Regions from separate parts of the Homo sapiens genome. Here all the other regions are linked to region 2. The links come from fine-mapping of genetic effects on gene expression. A gene starts in region 2. Each other region holds a variant in brackets. All regions are shown on one strand. Distances are from middle to middle. Region 1 overlaps PELP1 (proline, glutamate and leucine rich protein 1). Region 2 holds the start of ZMYND15 (zinc finger MYND-type containing 15). Region 3 overlaps PELP1 (proline, glutamate and leucine rich protein 1).

Evidence for each region. PIP is the estimated chance that this variant, and not a neighbour inherited with it, causes the effect.
Region 1: its variant is the best candidate, but not a certain one, in a credible set for the expression of ZMYND15 in whole blood (INTERVAL, PIP 0.78).
Region 3: its variant is the best candidate, but not a certain one, in a credible set for the expression of ZMYND15 in whole blood (INTERVAL, PIP 0.64).

The regions. Positions count from the first base shown.
Region 1 is chr17:4,675,650-4,680,649 of GRCh38, reverse strand. It overlaps PELP1 (proline, glutamate and leucine rich protein 1), which reads left to right. Exons shown (of 17, transcript NM_014389.3): 6 at 3,838-3,897; 7 at 4,143-4,293; 8 at 4,488-4,614; 9 at 4,766-4,853. Among named protein-coding and RNA genes, the nearest start is that of PELP1, 26 kb to the left of the region's middle. The variant T/G (reference allele first, on the strand shown) is at 3,113.
Region 2 is chr17:4,736,219-4,742,694 of GRCh38, reverse strand. ZMYND15 (zinc finger MYND-type containing 15) reads right to left here and starts at 2,862. Exons shown (of 14, transcript NM_001136046.3): 1 at 2,645-2,862; 2 at 1,555-2,176; 3 at 879-1,113; 4 at 625-780; 5 at 204-364. The coding sequence starts at 2,146. CXCL16 (C-X-C motif chemokine ligand 16) reads left to right here and starts at 2,767. Exons shown (of 6, transcript NM_001386809.1): 1 at 2,767-3,434; 2 at 3,775-3,913; 3 at 4,205-4,287. The coding sequence starts at 3,356. RefSeq lists a silencer at 2,676-2,895 and enhancers at 2,444-3,348, 3,349-4,254.
Region 3 is chr17:4,693,586-4,698,585 of GRCh38, reverse strand. All of the region lies in intron 1 of PELP1 (proline, glutamate and leucine rich protein 1), which reads left to right. Among named protein-coding and RNA genes, the nearest start is that of PELP1, 8.1 kb to the left of the region's middle. RefSeq lists enhancers at 64-233, 1,142-1,311, 1,941-2,010, 3,204-3,373. The variant TTC/C (reference allele first, on the strand shown) is at 2,552.

The DNA of each region.
Region 1 (5,000 bases), 61 kb after region 2:
CTGTATTTGCCATTAGTATTGTTAGTTAAGGGGGAGTTTGCTATTCAGGTTGTCTTGAAAGTGAGATTATGAGGCTGGGCGTGGTGGCTCATGCCTGTAATCCCAGCACTTTGAGAGGCCAAGGCGGGCAGATTGCATGAGCTCAGGAGTTTGAGACCAGCCTGGGCAACACAGTGAAACCTCGCCTCTACTAAAATACAAAAAATTAGCCAGGCGTGGCGGTGTGTGCCTGTAGTCCCAGTTACTTGGGAGGCCGAGGCAGGAGAATTGCTTGGACCCAGGAGGCGGAGGTTGCCATGAGCCGAGATCGCACCACTGTACTCCAGCCTGGGTGACAGAGTGAGACTCTGTCTCCAAAAAAAGAAAGAAAATGAGATTAATGTGGTTCTGTGACCAAAGCAAGAAAGTAAGTTCTTGGAGGGAAAGGGAACTGGTCTTTAGTGGGTGCCCACTGTGCCATTCACTCTCCTGAGTGTCTAAGATGTGTTGTGTCATTTTATCATTGTAATTATTCTGTGGAATTTGTATCACTGCATTTTACAGAGGAGAAAACCAGCTGAGAGGGACTTAAGTGACGTAACCAAAGGTTATATTATCTGGTAATTGTAAAACCAGGGCAGGTAGCAGCTCTAGTCAATTGTTAGTGGCTGTGTAGCTCGCTGGCCTGGGAAGGACTGTGAGTCAGAGTTCCATCGGCCTGAGCGCTGTGATCAGGGAGTGATGCCTGCAGTGTCGTTAGTAACTGGTTACTCGCAGTATCTGAAAAGTGCCTGAGCAGATGCTAGTTCTGAGTGAGCGAGGGGTTGTGTCCTTGCTGGTTCCTTCTTTTCATGTGAATGCCTCTAATCACAGCTAATAGAATCTTTGGGTAGGCAGGGCAGGACATTTTGTCAAGAAGGTATTTGGAGTGACTCATCGATTTTATTAAAGATTAGCAGAGGTTATTTACTGAGGTTTTACTAAGTTTAGTAAAAACTGGTTATCTTGTCAAATGTTCTGTAAGTTAACCTCTCAAATGACACAGGCCAGCAGTTTGTCCCTGAACAAAGGTTTGGTTTTACTGCAAAAGTGTATTTTGATTCAGCTCTGTTAGGTATTATCTTTATCTACCTGCATCCCCCATGAAAGTGGAGGGGAAATTGAGTGTTACTTAACAGGATAGAAGTGTGAATAGTAAGAGTTAAGGAGACTAGAATGCTAAGTGTTCTTCTGCTGTTGCTTTTTTATTTTCAGTGTGAGTAGTCAGGAGAATTTATCTGTAATTCTCAACCTTTTGTCAGACAGTTGAACTTAAGGCCTGCATTTTGAGTACCCTTTCCAAACTAACAAATGTTCCTGTGTCCTTCCAGGGAGTGTCTTACCTTTATTTCCCTAAGAATCAAGTGCCATCTGCCAGGAGTTTGAGATCAGCCTGGCCAACATGGTGAAACCCTACCTCTACCAAAAATACAAAAAAATTAGCTGGGTGTGGTGGTGTGTGCCTGTGGTTCCAGCTACTTAGAACATTGAGGCAGGAGATCCCCTGAAGCTGGGAGGCAGAGGGTGCAGTGAGCTGAGATCGTGGCACTGCACTCTAGCCTGGGTAACAGAGTGAGACCCTGTCTCAAAAAAAAAAAAGGTCATCTGGAGAACTTCCCTCTGTTGAGGGTGTTGAGGGTTTTGGCTTTGTCGGTTGCCAGCACTTCAGATAAGAATCTGTCATGCAGAGGCTCCAGGGGCAATTTGCACTTGGAAAATCTCGCAGACTAGTACTTAGGAAAACTGATAACTGCCGTTTTGAAGTGTCTGTGTTTTCTGTTACATTCCCCGGATACTCTCAGGGTAATTGTAGACTCCAAGCTCAGGATTACTACTCCCAAGTAATGTGAATCAAGCATTCTGAGTCCATGAGGTCAATTCCTGCAGAGACTTGAACTCACTTCCTCGTCCTTGCCACATTGATGAGCAGTTCCTCGGAATGGGTGGGAAGACTGACCTACTCTTGAGAGAGCCCCAGGACATGCTGTGTGTGTGCGCGTTTTGAGTGAACTGTTCCAAGCGAGTCATTGCTTTGGTTTGCTTTGTGGGTCAGCCAGGGTAACCTGTGGTTAGAGCCGTGTCGCTTCACCGTACACTGCTTTATTGCAGTCACATAAGCAGACTTCTGTTGGCTTCAGTCCAGCTTTTTGAGCCGTTTTTGGAGATAGGGTCTCGCTCTGTGACCCAGGAGTGCAGTGTTAAGATTGTAGCTCACTGTAACCTTGAACTCCTGGGCTCAAGTGATCCTCCCACGTCAGTCTCCCAAGTAGCTAGGACTACAGGTGTGCACCACTAGGATGTCTCGGGGAAAGCGTGAGCCTGCTCTTTCCCCTTCTCTGTATGTTGCCAGTGTTGGCTCCAGATTCTTGTTTTTCCATATGCTTGTCTTGTTATCCTTACTAATTCTTTTTTTTTTCTGAGACAGAGTCTTGCTCTGTCACCCAGGCTAGAGTGCAGTGGCGTGATCTCGGCTCACTGCAACCTCCGCCTCCTGGGTTCAAGCAATTCTCCTGCCTCAGCCTCCCAAGTAGCTGGGATTACAGGTGCCCACCACTGTGCCCAGCTAATTTTTGTACTTTTAGTAGAGATGGGGTTTCACCATGTTGGCCAGGCTGGTCTTGAACTCCTGACCTCGTGATCTGCTCACCTCAGCCTCCCAAAGTGCTGGGATTACAGGTATGAGCCACCGTGCCTGGCCTTTTTTTTTTTCTTTTTGAGACAGGGTCTCACTCTCATCACCCAGGCTAGAGTACACTGACTGGCATGATCTCGGTTCTGGGCTTGGGTGGTCCTCCCACCTCAGCCTCCCAAGTAGCTGGGACTACAGGCATGCGCCACCACACCCGGCTAAGTTTTTGTATTTTTAGTAGAGATAGGGTTTCTCCATGTTGCCCAGACTGGTCTCAAACTCCTTGGCTCAAGTGATCCGCCTGCCTTGACCTCCCAAAGTGCCTGGATTACAGGCGTGAGCTACTGCACCCAGCCTGTGCTTTTTTATTGACATGTTAAGTAATAAGATCTAGAAGCAGGTCTTACAACGACTATAATTGCAAATTAGTGATGCATGTGAATGATATTTCAGGATGTGTTACAA[T/G]TATAATGTGACATGAAAATGATTCTATTAGTGACAGTCACAGGTACTGCTGATACTACTGTGGCTATTTGTCTGCATTTATAAGTGAAGGAAACACTACATTTTACAAATAGGCTAGTGGGAGTAATTTTTTTCCCCATCCATGATCACAGGCCCCCTATGATTGTATATCCAACTAAATTGTGGTTCTCAGGTTAAACACTCCTGCCCTAGCACCTTCACACAGCAGGCAGAGAAAGTGCCGAATGACAGATTGCTACTCCGAGACTTGCTGCCTTACTTCTGCTCTAGCAGCCTTCTTTTTTGACCTTGTCCTGCCCTCATACCTCTGGTTAGTGTCTTAACTTCCAGCTTGGACCCTCGTTTTTGTGTGTGAGCTGGTAGAGAGTTGGAGTGTGGAGACTGTTTTTTAGTACTATGTCCTTTTGGCTTGAGGGAAAAATTTTGCAAAAACTGTCAAGGAGGAAGCCCAGCTGTCTCTGGGACAGGGCCAGGCCCTTTTCGCTCCCAAGCAGGAAGCCGAGGACCAGAGCTGGCGTTGAGGAGTCTTTTACCATGAAAGCATGTCCGTGCCCGGTGTTGATGCCCCATAGAGGGCTTTGCTTCTTGTGTCTACAGGAAAAAGAGACCTGGGCTTAGAGTCTGCTGCTGGGAACGGATGGGATGTACATCTCTGGCTCTCAGAGCTGGCTCACTGGCCTCTTCCTTTTTTCCTCCACATCCAGGGCAAGCTGGCCTCATTTTTTCTGTCTAGGGTGGATGCCTTGAGCCCTCAGCTCCAACAGGTAAAGGGCAGGGAGGGAGAGGGAGAGCCCGGGGATCTGAGCCTGGATTGTCTCTTGCTGCTCCTCCTCTAGCTTTTCTGTCCTGCCTTCATATGCCCATCTGTGTCCTTCGGCCTCATTGTCCCATCTCAGGTTTCCCTCAGAGCTCTCTCTGATCTCCATCTCTTTTGGGTGTCAGTGGGGCTGGGGGTTCTGTGGCTGGGCTGGATTCCCATCTGACCAGGTTTCTGTCCTTTCTCCCGCAGTTGGCCTGTGAGTGTTATTCCCGGCTGCCCTCTTTAGGGGCTGGCTTTTCCCAAGGCCTGAAGCACACCGAGAGCTGGGAGCAGGAGCTACACAGTCTGCTGGCCTCACTGCACACCCTGCTGGGGGCCCTGTACGAGGGAGCAGAGACTGGTAGGGACCAGGGCTGCTAGTTAGTGGAACAATAGTGAGGAAGCGTGGCAGGAAGGAACAGGAGGGGAGCCCAGAGACATGGGGCAGTTGGTTTTTGGGGAAAATGGGTTAGAATACAGGCAGGTCGTCCACCAGAAATGACAGAGGAGGGGATGGAAGAAAGACAGTGTACAGGGTAGTTGTGCTTCTGCCAGCTCCTGTGCAGAATGAAGGCCCTGGGGTGGAGATGCTGCTGTCCTCAGAAGATGGTGATGCCCATGTCCTTCTCCAGCTTCGGCAGAGGTTTTCGGGACTGGCCCGCTGCCTAGGGCTCATGCTCAGGTGTGTGTGGGTATTGGAGGGAGCGGAGGCGTGGAGCAGGAGGGATTGATGAGGGAGTGTCGCCTTCATCAGGAGAAAGGAGATGAAGGTGGGTGTGGGAGTTATGCCAGGGAGCCTGCTCTGAAGGTCTCCCTGCTCTGATTCTCTTTAGCTCTGAGTTTGGAGCTCCCGTGTCCGTCCCTGTGCAGGAAATCCTGGATTTCATCTGCCGGACCCTCAGCGTCAGTAGCAAGAATATTGTAAGTGGGATTTGTCATCTCTTCAGAGCCCTTGCTCAGGATACCAGGCAACCAGGAAAGTACTGGGGACCTGAGTCTCCCCAAACAGTGTCATCCTGGAGTCGTCCCAGAGAGCTTCCTACTTTTGTCCAAATAACATCACTTCCT
Region 2 (6,476 bases):
CAGGGACCCAGACACTCAGGCCTCGGCTTCAGAGACCCTGTCTCCAGCCCCAAACACCCAGCCCCTGCCCTTGTTCCAGGGATCTAGGCTCTAGCCCCAGACACTCAGCCTTCAACTGCAGGACCCTGTTCCCAGACATCTAATTCCCAGTCTCAAAGACCTGGTCCCAGTTTCCCCCAACCATTCTGACCTCCTTATGGTACCTGCGGTGTAGGTAAAAGGCAGGGTTGCCAGTTCTCCTGCCCGCTCCATGAAGGCTGCAAGCCTTGGGCACCAAAATCGGTGACTCACATCATCTGGGCACCGCTGCCAGTCAGCCCGGAGACAAGCCTCTCCACAATACAAGACAGCACTACACTGGGGGCTGGGGACACAGCGGGTGGTGGGCACCTAGTGTTAACCTCTGTAGGTCCTGTCTGCTGTTCAACTGCCCAGCAGCTGCCCATATGTCACTCGGTCTGTTTGTCTTACACCCTCTAACCGCCTGTAACAGTCTGTATTGTTTCCTCTGCATCTTCTCATGTCCCTGCCTCTCCTTCTGTCTGCTAGGCGCCCCCCACCACCCTGCCTTCCTTCTATTTGCCTATTGGGGTCTTCCTCTCCCCCAGCTTTGGGGCTGCTCACCAAGGTGTCAGCTTCGCTTCAAAGCTGTGCCTGTGACACACATGGCAGGTTCGAGCACGAAGGGAAGCAAAGGTGAAGCCTGGCCGGGGACCCCATGTCCGCATTGGGGTTTTGGCTAACTTCACACCTAGCCTTGGGACCAAGCTCTCCAGCTCTCTAAATGCAGTTGGGGGGGAGATGGCATCAGGCTGGAGGAGGTGCTTGGGAATCCAGGGCCCGAGTCCTCCCCAGCCTCAGATACCAGATTTCTATACCGATGCAGCCGGGCATCTCCCACAGTAAGCTGTCGGGGCTTTCGGGGATCCCCAGAGCCCATGGGACAGGCCATGCTGTGACAGAGGAGAGCATAGGCCCAAGGAGCCAGGTCCTTGGTCCCTGAGCCCCAGCTTGCGGTTCCCTGGGCTCCATCCACTAGCAGATCAATGCCCAAGATGGTGCCATGCTCATCCGTCACAAGTAAGAGACAGGAAACGTGCAGGGGGGCAGCCTCTGGGGAAAGAGGGAAAAGTTGAGGTGGTAGGGGGCAGCGAGAGACAAATGTGGTCAGGGTCAGGAGTACCAAACTCAAATACCTACGGGGCTAGGCAAGTAACCTCACTGAGTAAAGGGCTCTGGGTAGAGAGGGCACGCTCCTTCTAAAGGGGACAGCTGCTACAGAGGACCAGAATGCGCTGCCATGCAGAAATGTAGGCCCACTGTCAGAGCTTGAGATTTTTCTTGGGAATGTGTAAATCCAGACTTCTGGATACTTTTTTTCTTGCAATGTTTAAACATTAAATTAAAAAAAAAAACCCCACTGTGGGTCAATAAAAACACCTTTTCAGGCCAGATTGGCCTGAAGGCCAGCACTCAGAACTAGTGGCAGGGGAGGGCTTCCGAAGGGAGGATGGCTGGGCAAGGGGTAGGGCAGGGCCAGCCCTGGGTTCTTACCACTCCTCTGTCCCTTCCTCTTCTGGGGTCTTGTTTCGTTCTCCACCCTGTCCTCTCGGCAGCCATCCTTGCCACCTCCTGCCTCCCGGGCAGCCTCCTCTGACTCTCCTGGAGGGTTTGTTTCCTGGGGGGACTCCCTGCTGGTAGGGGCTAGCTCCCGGTCCTCCTCTGGTTCCACCTTCTCTGTGCTGCCTGCACCCCCGTCCTCTCTCTTCTCTTCTTCTTCATCTTCCTCCTCTTCCTCCTCCCCTTCCTCCCCATCCTCTAGGCTGACAAAGCTGATGTAGGGGCTCAGGTCTCGCAGGTGGAGTGGAGGGTTGTCTCCCAGGAGCCAGGCAGTCCCCAGGCCTGGTCCAGGACCTGGTTCTGCCCCTTGCCCCAGGCTGATGCCCACACTATGGTTGGGCAGGACATGGAGCACCCAAAGGGCAGGGTCCTGGGGTAGCCTTCTGATCTGGGCCTCCAGCTGCCGGCAGCGGCCCTCAAGGCTAGTCCCTACAGCTCCACGCTCTGCCACAAACTTTCGGAACCAGCCGAAGAGAAGGGCAGTGAAATCAAGGAACTCATCCCGGTATCCAGACACAAACTCCATGTCTTCAGCGGCACAGGGCCCCGGCCCAGACTGAGCAAAAGAAGGGATATATGGTGAGGGACAGGAGAGCAATGATGGAGTTTGGGGCTGGGTCACAAATTGAGGGAGAGGGTAGGTTTGAGAGTCACTTAGGGTTGGATCCGTGGATATGCTAGGAGCGGAGAAGAGGATTTTTCAGGGCTGAGGATGGGAGTTTAGGGAGGAAAATGGGGGCTGGACTTGAAAGTGGGTGACCAGGGTTGGAGAAGACTACTCAGGGATGAGATGGTATTTGGGGCTTAAAATTGGAGAGTTCACACCCTCAAAAGCAGAGTTTAAATTAAGGCTAGAGAGGAGAGAGGGCTAATCCTATCGGGAACGGTTTGGTGGGGAGGGAAGCATTTTGGATGCGTCTGTGGGGTATGGGAGTGGGAGCGAGGGGGTTCCCTGGGCTCGGATCTGCGTGGCGGGCAGCCCCGGTAGACCTAGCCCCTCCCGGCCGCCCCACTCCTCCGGTACCTGCAGCCGCCACCACTTTTCGAAGGTAAATACCTCGCGGTGGAGGGTGCGCGGGTGCGGTTGTGACGTCAGGGCTGCCCGAGCCCTCGCCGGCTCAGCGGGCGGCCACGCCCCCCGGGCTCGGTGCGTCCGCGGGTGGCTGCCCCGCAGGTGCGCGCGGCCGGGGCTGGCGGCGACTCTCTCCACCGGGCCGCCCGGGAGGCTCATGCAGCGCGGCTGGGTCCCGCGGCGCCCGGATCGGGGAAGTGAAAGTGCCTCGGAGGAGGAGGGCCGGTCCGGCAGTGCAGCCGCCTCACAGGTCGGCGGACGGGCCAGGCGGGCGGCCTCCTGAACCGAACCGAATCGGCTCCTCGGGCCGTCGTCCTCCCGCCCCTCCTCGCCCGCCGCCGGAGTTTTCTTTCGGTTTCTTCCAAGATTCCTGGCCTTCCCTCGACGGAGCCGGGCCCAGTGCGGGGGCGCAGGGCGCGGGAGCTCCACCTCCTCGGCTTTCCCTGCGTCCAGAGGCTGGCATGGCGCGGGCCGAGTACTGAGCGCACGGTCGGGGCACAGCAGGGCCGGGGGGTGCAGCTGGCTCGCGCCTCCTCTCCGGCCGCCGTCTCCTCCGGTCCCCGGCGAAAGCCATTGAGACACCAGCTGGACGTCACGCGCCGGAGCATGTCTGGGAGTCAGAGCGAGGTGGCTCCATCCCCGCAGAGTCCGCGGAGCCCCGAGATGGGACGGGACTTGCGGCCCGGGTCCCGCGTGCTCCTGCTCCTGCTTCTGCTCCTGCTGGTGTACCTGACTCAGCCAGGTTAGCCGGGGGCGGGGCAGGGGACCCAGATTCCCCTGTCACGGGAAGGGGGTGAGTTGGGGAGGGGACACGAGGCCCACGGAGTTGAGTGGATGAAGGCAGCGGGGACAAGAGGAAAGCCAGCCAGCCGCCTGGGGTTGGGGACAGAGGCCCGGGGACGCCTGGCTCCGGGCGGGATTATGGATGTTGTCGGGGGCGTGATGATGTGTGGGTTGAGCCTGGCGCTCTGACCCTGGGTCCACCGAGAGGCTGTCATGGGGCTGTGGATTGGATGCCAGGGAACAGCGGAGTGGGGACCCTGGGCCTGGGAATGGGTGCCGACCACCTCCGTCCCGCGCAGGCAATGGCAACGAGGGCAGCGTCACTGGAAGTTGTTATTGTGGTAAAAGAATTTCTTCCGACTCCCCGCCATCGGTTCAGTTCATGAATCGTCTCCGGAAACACCTGAGAGCTTACCATCGGTGTCTATACTACACGAGGTAATTTTACCTGCCTCTGCGAGGGCAGCGCCTGGGCGGCCCCTCCTTGCAGGTGCCTCCAGGACCCTCTCTGGTCCAGCCTGAACTCCTTCCCGGCTCACCGAGCCCCATCTCCGGGTTCCGTTTGCTCTCATTCCCCGAAACTTCATGACTCCGTCTCACCTACTGGGGAGTTTCCCAGTCCCAGGAGAAAGGGCTCTTTCTTGGTGGCAACTTCACGCCTCTGGAATGAGGAAGGAGCCGGGGAAGGAAAGAAGGCGCCGCAGCTAAGCCCAGGTCTCTCCTCCGCAGGTTCCAGCTCCTTTCCTGGAGCGTGTGTGGGGGCAACAAGGACCCATGGGTTCAGGAATTGATGAGCTGTCTTGATCTCAAAGGTGAGACTTTTCCACTGCTCTTCAGGCTCTGCCTCCAGGGCTTAGCAGCTTCCACCTGACAGTTTTCTTTACCTGAGCCTTTTCCCCTGGGGCCGCACATTCCTAGAACCTTCTTCTGATCCTGTCCAAAGTACTTAGACTCGAGTCCCTGTTTGCCAAACGGGGTGATCATTCACCATCACCTTCATGAGTTTTGCCAATTCATTCTACCACGTGTGCTATTGTCTACTTATTAATATTTTTCTTGAAATCAAAGTACTATTTTATTTTATTTTTTTGAGATGGAGTCTCACTCTGTCACCCAGGCTGGAGTGCAGTGGCACGATCTTGGCTCACTGCAACCTCTGCCTCCCAGGTTCAAGAGATTCTCCTGCCTCAGCCTCCTGAGTAGCTGGGATTACAGGCGCGCACCACCAAGCCTGGCTAATTTTTGTATTTTTAGTAGAGACAGGGTTTCACCATGTTGGCCAGGCTGGTCTCGAACTCCTGGCCTTGTGATCCACCCGCCTCGGCCTCCAAAAGTGCTAGGATTACAGGCGTGAGCCACCACACCTGGCCTATTTTTCTTTTCCAATATTTTATTATGAAAATTTACACATATACAAAAGTTGAAAGAATGGCACACTGAATATCCAGTGCCTCCACCTAGATTCTACAATTTTATTTATATATGTATATTTTACATATTTACATAAACATATATTTTACACTATCAATTTTACAGCAATTACACGATATTTGCTTTATTAAGTATCCATCTATTCATTCTTCTATCCATCATCCATCACCTTATTTCTTGATGCATTTCTTTTTTTTTTTTTTTTTTTTTTTTAATGGAGTCTTGCTCTGTCGCCCAGGCTGGAGTGCAATGGTGCCCTCAGCTCACTGCAGCCTCCGCCTCCCAGGTTCAAGCAATTCTCCTGCCACAGCCTTCCGAGTAGCTGGGATTGCAGGTGCCCGCCACCATGCCCAGCTAATTTTTGTATTTTTTTAGTAGAGATGGGGTTTCACCGTGTTGGTCAGGCTGGTCTCAAACTCCTGACCTCAGGTGATCCACCTGCCTCAGCCTCCCAAAGTGCTGGGATTACAGGTGTGAACCGCAGTGCCCGGCCTCTTGATGCATTTCAAGGCAGATTGTGGACATCATTGCACTTCATCCCAAGACATTTCAGCATGTATATTAAGTAGAGTTCAATATTTTAATGCTTTTTTTTCTTTTGAGTTCAAATTTACATACAATGAAATGAATTACTTTTAAGTGTGCACAAACTAGTTTTGAAAACTTAAGTAGAGGCCAGGACGGTGGCTCACTCCTGTAATCCTAGCTCTTTGGGAGGTTGAGGCCGGTGGATCACCTGAGGTCAGGAGTTTGAGACCAGCCTGACCAACATGGTAAAACCCCATCTCTACTAAAAATACAAAATTAGCCAGGCATGGTGGCATGTGCCTGTAATTCCAGCTACTCAGGAGGTTGAGGCAGGAGAATCACTTGAACCTGGAGGCGGAGGTTGCAGTGAGCCGAGATCAGGCCATTGCACTCCAGCCTGGGCAACAAAAAAAAAGAAAGAAAACTTAAATAGTAAATTATCCTAAGCAATAATATCTGTGAAGTCACAAGTTTGATGCATTGGTTATATTTTTCTCTTAAAATAAATATACAACCATTAAAATACAAAAGGTTCTTCCATGTCCTAGCTAAAGTTTTGTAGGATCTGTGTCATCCATACTGCCTTTAAGTCTGCCTAGACCTCTATGATTTCCTTTCATCCTCCCAGGAACCCTGGCCCTTGGTACTACAATTATCCTCATTTTACAGCTGGAAGATATCACTTCCGGAGAGGTTAGGGACAAGGGGTGAGGTTACACAGCTACTTGAGGTTACACAGCTACTTTACAGCAGAGCTTGGAATCCAACCCTGGTCTTCTGATTTCCCAGTTCATGACACCCACTTGTCTCGTGGTTCGCTCACTTCCTTGTCCCCTACCTTTTCCGTCTGTCATCTGCCTTCCTCTTCTGGCCTTCAGCGTGATAACCTCCCTGACTCACTCTTCCCTCTGTTGGAGCTCAGAACATGACACTCCAAAACATGGCACCTTGGTAATTACGAAAACAGCAGAAGTAAGTAGCTCACTCTGCTCTGTTTTTCTGTGAGAGCTGGCCATAAAGGAATTCTCTAACTTCACGTGGA
Region 3 (5,000 bases), 43 kb after region 2:
ACTGGAACCTCCGCCCCCTGGGTTTAAGCGATTCTCCTGCCTCAGCCTCCCAAGTAGCTGGGATTACAAGCGCCTGCTACCATGCCTGGCTAATTTTTTTTCTTTTTTTTTTTTTAGTAGCGATGGGGTTTCGCCATGTTGGCCAGGCTGGTCTCGAACTCCTGACCTCAGATCATCCACCCGCGTTGTCCTCCCGAAGTGCTGGCGTGAGCCACCGCGCCCAGCTTGCTTTTAGTTATAATGTCTCTTTAGTATTCTTTAATCTGAAATAGTTCTTCAGCCTTTGTCTTATGATCTTGATATTTTTAAAGAGTACAGAATAGTTATTTCGTAGGATGCCCCTCAGGTTAGGATCTAATCATGAGGAAACAGCAGACAAATTAAACTGGAGATTTGTGCGTTTTCAGCAAGAATACTGCAGAAGTCGTCCAGGTGCAGTGGCTCATGCCTGTTATCCCAGCATGAGATTCAGAGGCTTAGTGGGAGGCCGAAGTGGGAGGATCACTGAGTGCAGGAGTTCAAGACTAGCTTGGGCAACATGGCAAGACCCTATCTCTACAAAAAAAAAAAAAAAAAACCTTGCAGAAATGATGTGTCATTCTTGGTGCATCACATCAGGAGCACGTATTCTAGGTTAAGCAGGTCTCTGCCAGATTTCTTCACTGTTATAAAGGTATGATTTTTTTTTTTTCCATTTGTAGTTAAGTGTCTTGGGGGGAGATAATGTGAATGTCTTAGGTCTTGTCAACCTTTCACCCACTCATTTTAACATCTATTAAAGGTTCTTCCCTGAATGAATTATTACTATGATGGTTGTTCCGTTGAACTCATTACATTCAGGCTTTTAGCCTAAATGCTGCCGAAACAACCCTTTGCTGGGTGAAATGGTAACTCTTGAAGATCACTGGTGTCCATCAAGACATTAAGTTCAAAGGTCAATTTGGGTCATCATATTTGACTTATCGCTACCATTTGATACAGTTAATTATACTTTCCTATTTAAAAAACTGTCTTCACTTGACTTCTGGGATATCTCTCCCCTGTCTTTTTGTTTTTGTTTGTTTGTTTCATTGAGACAGGGTCTCGCTGTGTTGCCCAGGCTGGAGTGCAGTGGCGCGATCATAGCTTACTGCATCCTTGATCTTCCAGGCTGAGGCAGTCCGCCCTGCTCAGCCTTCTGGGTAGCTGGGACCACAGGTGTGTGCCCCCACACCCAGCTAATCTGTTTGATTTTTAGTAGAAACAAGGTCTCGCTATGTTGCTGAGGCTGGTCTTGAACTCTTGAGCTCAAGCAGTCTTCCCACTTTAGCCTCCTAAAGTACTGGGATTATAGGCGTTAGTCACCCTCCCAGCCCCTCTCCTCTCCTCTCGATTCTCCTGTTATCACACTGGTTACTCCTTTCCAGTAAAGACTGATCCCTCCTCACCTCTGTGACCTCTGAAGGTTTGAGTGCCTACAACCCAGGCCTTGCACTGTTTCTCTTCTCTTTACTCTTATTCCCTTGGTGAACTGATCCAGTCTCAAGGCCCACACCTCTTGAGTTTACATCTCCAGCCAGAAGTTCTCTTCACACTTGTCTAGCCGGTGCCTATTTGGCATCTCCGTTTTCATGTTAAATACACATCACAGATTGAACAGATCTGAAACTGAGCTCCCTATTGTCACCCCAAAACCTGCTCCTCCTGCATTAGTTCCCTTCTCGGTGAATGGCAGCTTCATCTTTCTAGTTGTTCAGCAAAAAACCTTGGCATTATCTTGGACCCTTCTTTTTATTTTCCACCCATATCCAGTTTGACGGCACATCCCGTTGGCTCTACCTTCACAGTACTTCCTGATTTTGACTGCTTTGTATCGCCACAGTTACCACATTCTTCAAGCTGCATCATCATTTGTCTGGAATATTACAGTAACCTTCTACCTCATCTGTTTGCTTCTGCCTTCTCAACAAGACAACACAAATGCTGTTGATTAAAAACAAAGCAAAACAAAAAGCAAACCAGAAGTCAGATATTGTCACTCCTGTGCGCAATTTCTCTCTCCCCCTCGTGGCTTTTATCTTACTCAGGGTGAAAGTCGGTAATCACCTATATGTCTCTGCACAGTCTGGTCCCACTCCCTTAACCTTCATCATTGGTTACTCCTCTCCACCTTGCTCACTTTTCTCCATCAACAATTTGTCTCCTTGTTGTTCTTTGGAAATAACGAAGTATGCTCTCATCTCATAGTCTTCGCTCTTTTTATTTTTCTTTTTTGAGACAGGATGTTGCTTTGCTGTTCAGGCTGGAGTGTAGTGGTGGCGATCATGGCTCACTGCAGTCTTGACCTCCCGGGGTCAAGCAGCCCTCCCACCTTAGCCTCCCAAGTAGCTGTGACCACAGGTGCCCTCCACCATGTTCGGCTAATTTTTAAAAATTCTTTGTGGAGAATGGGGGTCTCCCTCGGTTGCACAGGCTGATCTTGACCTCCTGGGCTCAAGCCATCCTCCTGCCTTGGCCTCCCAGTGTTGGGATTACAGTCATGAGCCCCTTGCCCAGCCTGTTTTTTTTTTTT[TTC/C]TTTTCCTGGAACACTCTTTTTTTTATGGTTATCAGTATGCCTTTTTATAAAAACAGCTTTACTGCGGGGGTTCATGGTGGTTCACTCCTGTAATCCCAGCACTTTCGGAGGCCAAGGTGGGCGGATCACCTGAGGTCAGGAGTTGGAGACCAGCCTGACCAATATGGTGAAACCACACCACCACGTCTGGCTAATTTTTGTATTTTTAGTAGATTTTTAGATGTTTAGTTTCGCCACGTTGGCAAGGCTGTTCTCAAACTCCTAACCTCAAATGATCTGCCCACCTTGGCCTCCCCAAGTGCTGGGATTACAGGCGTGAATCACTGCCCCCTGCCAGATTTTTTTTTTTTTTTTTTTTTTTTTTAAGAGAGAGGGTCTCACTCTTTTGCCCAGGCTGGAGTATAGTAGTGTGTTCATAGCTCACTGCAGCCTTGAACGCCTGGATTCAAGCGATCCTTCTGCCTCAGCCTCCCGAGTAGCTGGGACTGCAGGTGCATGCCATTGCACCTGGCTAATTTTTAAAAATTTTTGTAGAGATGGTGTCTCTCTGTGTTGCCCAGGCTGGTATGGAACTCCTGGCCTCAAGTGATTCGCCTGCCTTGGTTTCCCAGAATTTTGGGATTATAGGCCACCGTGCCTGGCCAAAACAGCTTTATTGAGAAATAATTCACAAACCATACAATTTAGCCATTTTATTTATTTATTTTTTCCAGACGGAGTCTCACTCTGTTGCCGAGGCTGGAGTGCAGTGGCGTGATCTCGGCTCACTGCGACCTCTGCCTCCCGGGTTCAAGCGATTCTCCTGCCTCAGCCTCCCTAGTAGTTGGGATTACGGGCGCCCGCCACCATGTCCGGCTAATTTTTGTATTTTTCAGTAGAGACGGGTTTTCATCATGTTGGCCAGGCTGGTCTCAAACTCCTGACCTCGTGATCCACCCGCTTCGGCTGCCCAAAGTGCTGGAATTACAGGCATGAGCCACGGTGCCTGGCCTTTTATTTTTTTCGAAATGGAGTCTCACATTGTCACCCAGGCTGGAGTACAGTGGTGCAATCTTGGCAAACTGCAATTTCTGCATCCTGGGTTCAAGCGATTCTCCCGGGTTCAAGCGATTCTCCCGGGTTCAAGCGATTCTCTCAGGTTCAAGCGATTCTCCTTCCTTAGCCTCCCGAGTAGCTGGGATTACAGGCGCCCACCACCACGCCTGGCTAATTTTTGTATTTTTAGTAGAGCCGGGGTTTCACCATGTTGGCCAGGCTGGTCTTGAACTCCTGACCTCATGATCCACCTGCCTCGGCCCCCCAAAGTGCTGGCATTACAGGCGTAAGCCACCGCGCCCGGCCCATTTTATTTTTATTTTATTTTATTTTTTTTGAGGTGGAGTCTCATTCTGTCACCCAGGCTGGAGTGCAGTGTCACGATCTTGGCTCATTGCGACCTCCGCCTCCCGTTCTCAAGCGGTTCTCCTGCCTCAGCCTTTGGAGTAGCTGGGATTACAGGCGCCTGCCACCACGCCTGGCTGATTTTTTTTTTTTTGTATTTTTGGTAGAGATGGCGTTTCACCATGTTGGCCAGGCTGGTCTCAAACCCCTGACCTCAGGTGGTCTGCCCACCTTGGCCTCCCAAAGTACTGGGATTATAGGCATGAGCCACTGCGCCCGGCCACAGTTCACTCACTTAGAGTATACAATTCCGTGGATTTAGTATATTTGCAGAGTTGTGCGGTCATTGCTGTGCTCAGTTTTGGAACATTTTCATCACTCCATAAAGAAATTCTGTACCCACTTACAGTCATTCCCATTGCCCACCAAGCCCTCCCTGGCTGCCTCCAGCTTTAGGCAAACAGTAATCTACTTTTTTTCTTTAGAGATTTGCCTATTCTGGCCATTTGATAGAAATGAATTGTATAATATGTAGCCTTTGGGTTTGGCTTCTTTCACTTAGCAGTCAGTTTTCAAGGTTCATCCATGTGTCAAGACTTTATTACTCTTTTCTGTTTTGCTGTGTTGGGTCTTGTGTTGCCTAGGCTGGATTCAAACTCTCAGGATTAGTCAAGTGATTCTTATGCCTCAGCCTCCCAAGTAGCTGGGACTACAGGCGGGTGCCATTGTGCCCGGCTAAAACTTCATTCCTATTTATGGCCTTTTATGCAATAGTCCCCTCTTATCTGTGCTTTCCCTTTCCATGGTTTTACTTACCTGTGGTCAACCGTGGTCTGAAAATATTAGGTGGAAAATTCCAGAAATAAGTAATTCATAAGTTTTAAATTACGTGCCATTCTGAGCAGCGTGATGGACTCTCGAGGAGTTCTGCTTCATCCTACCTGGGACGTGAATCGGACATGAATCATCCTTTTGTCCAGTGTATCCATGTTGCACATGCTCCCTGCCTGAGGGTCATCTTGTAACCATCTCGGTGATCAGATCCACTGTGGCGGTATTGCAGTGC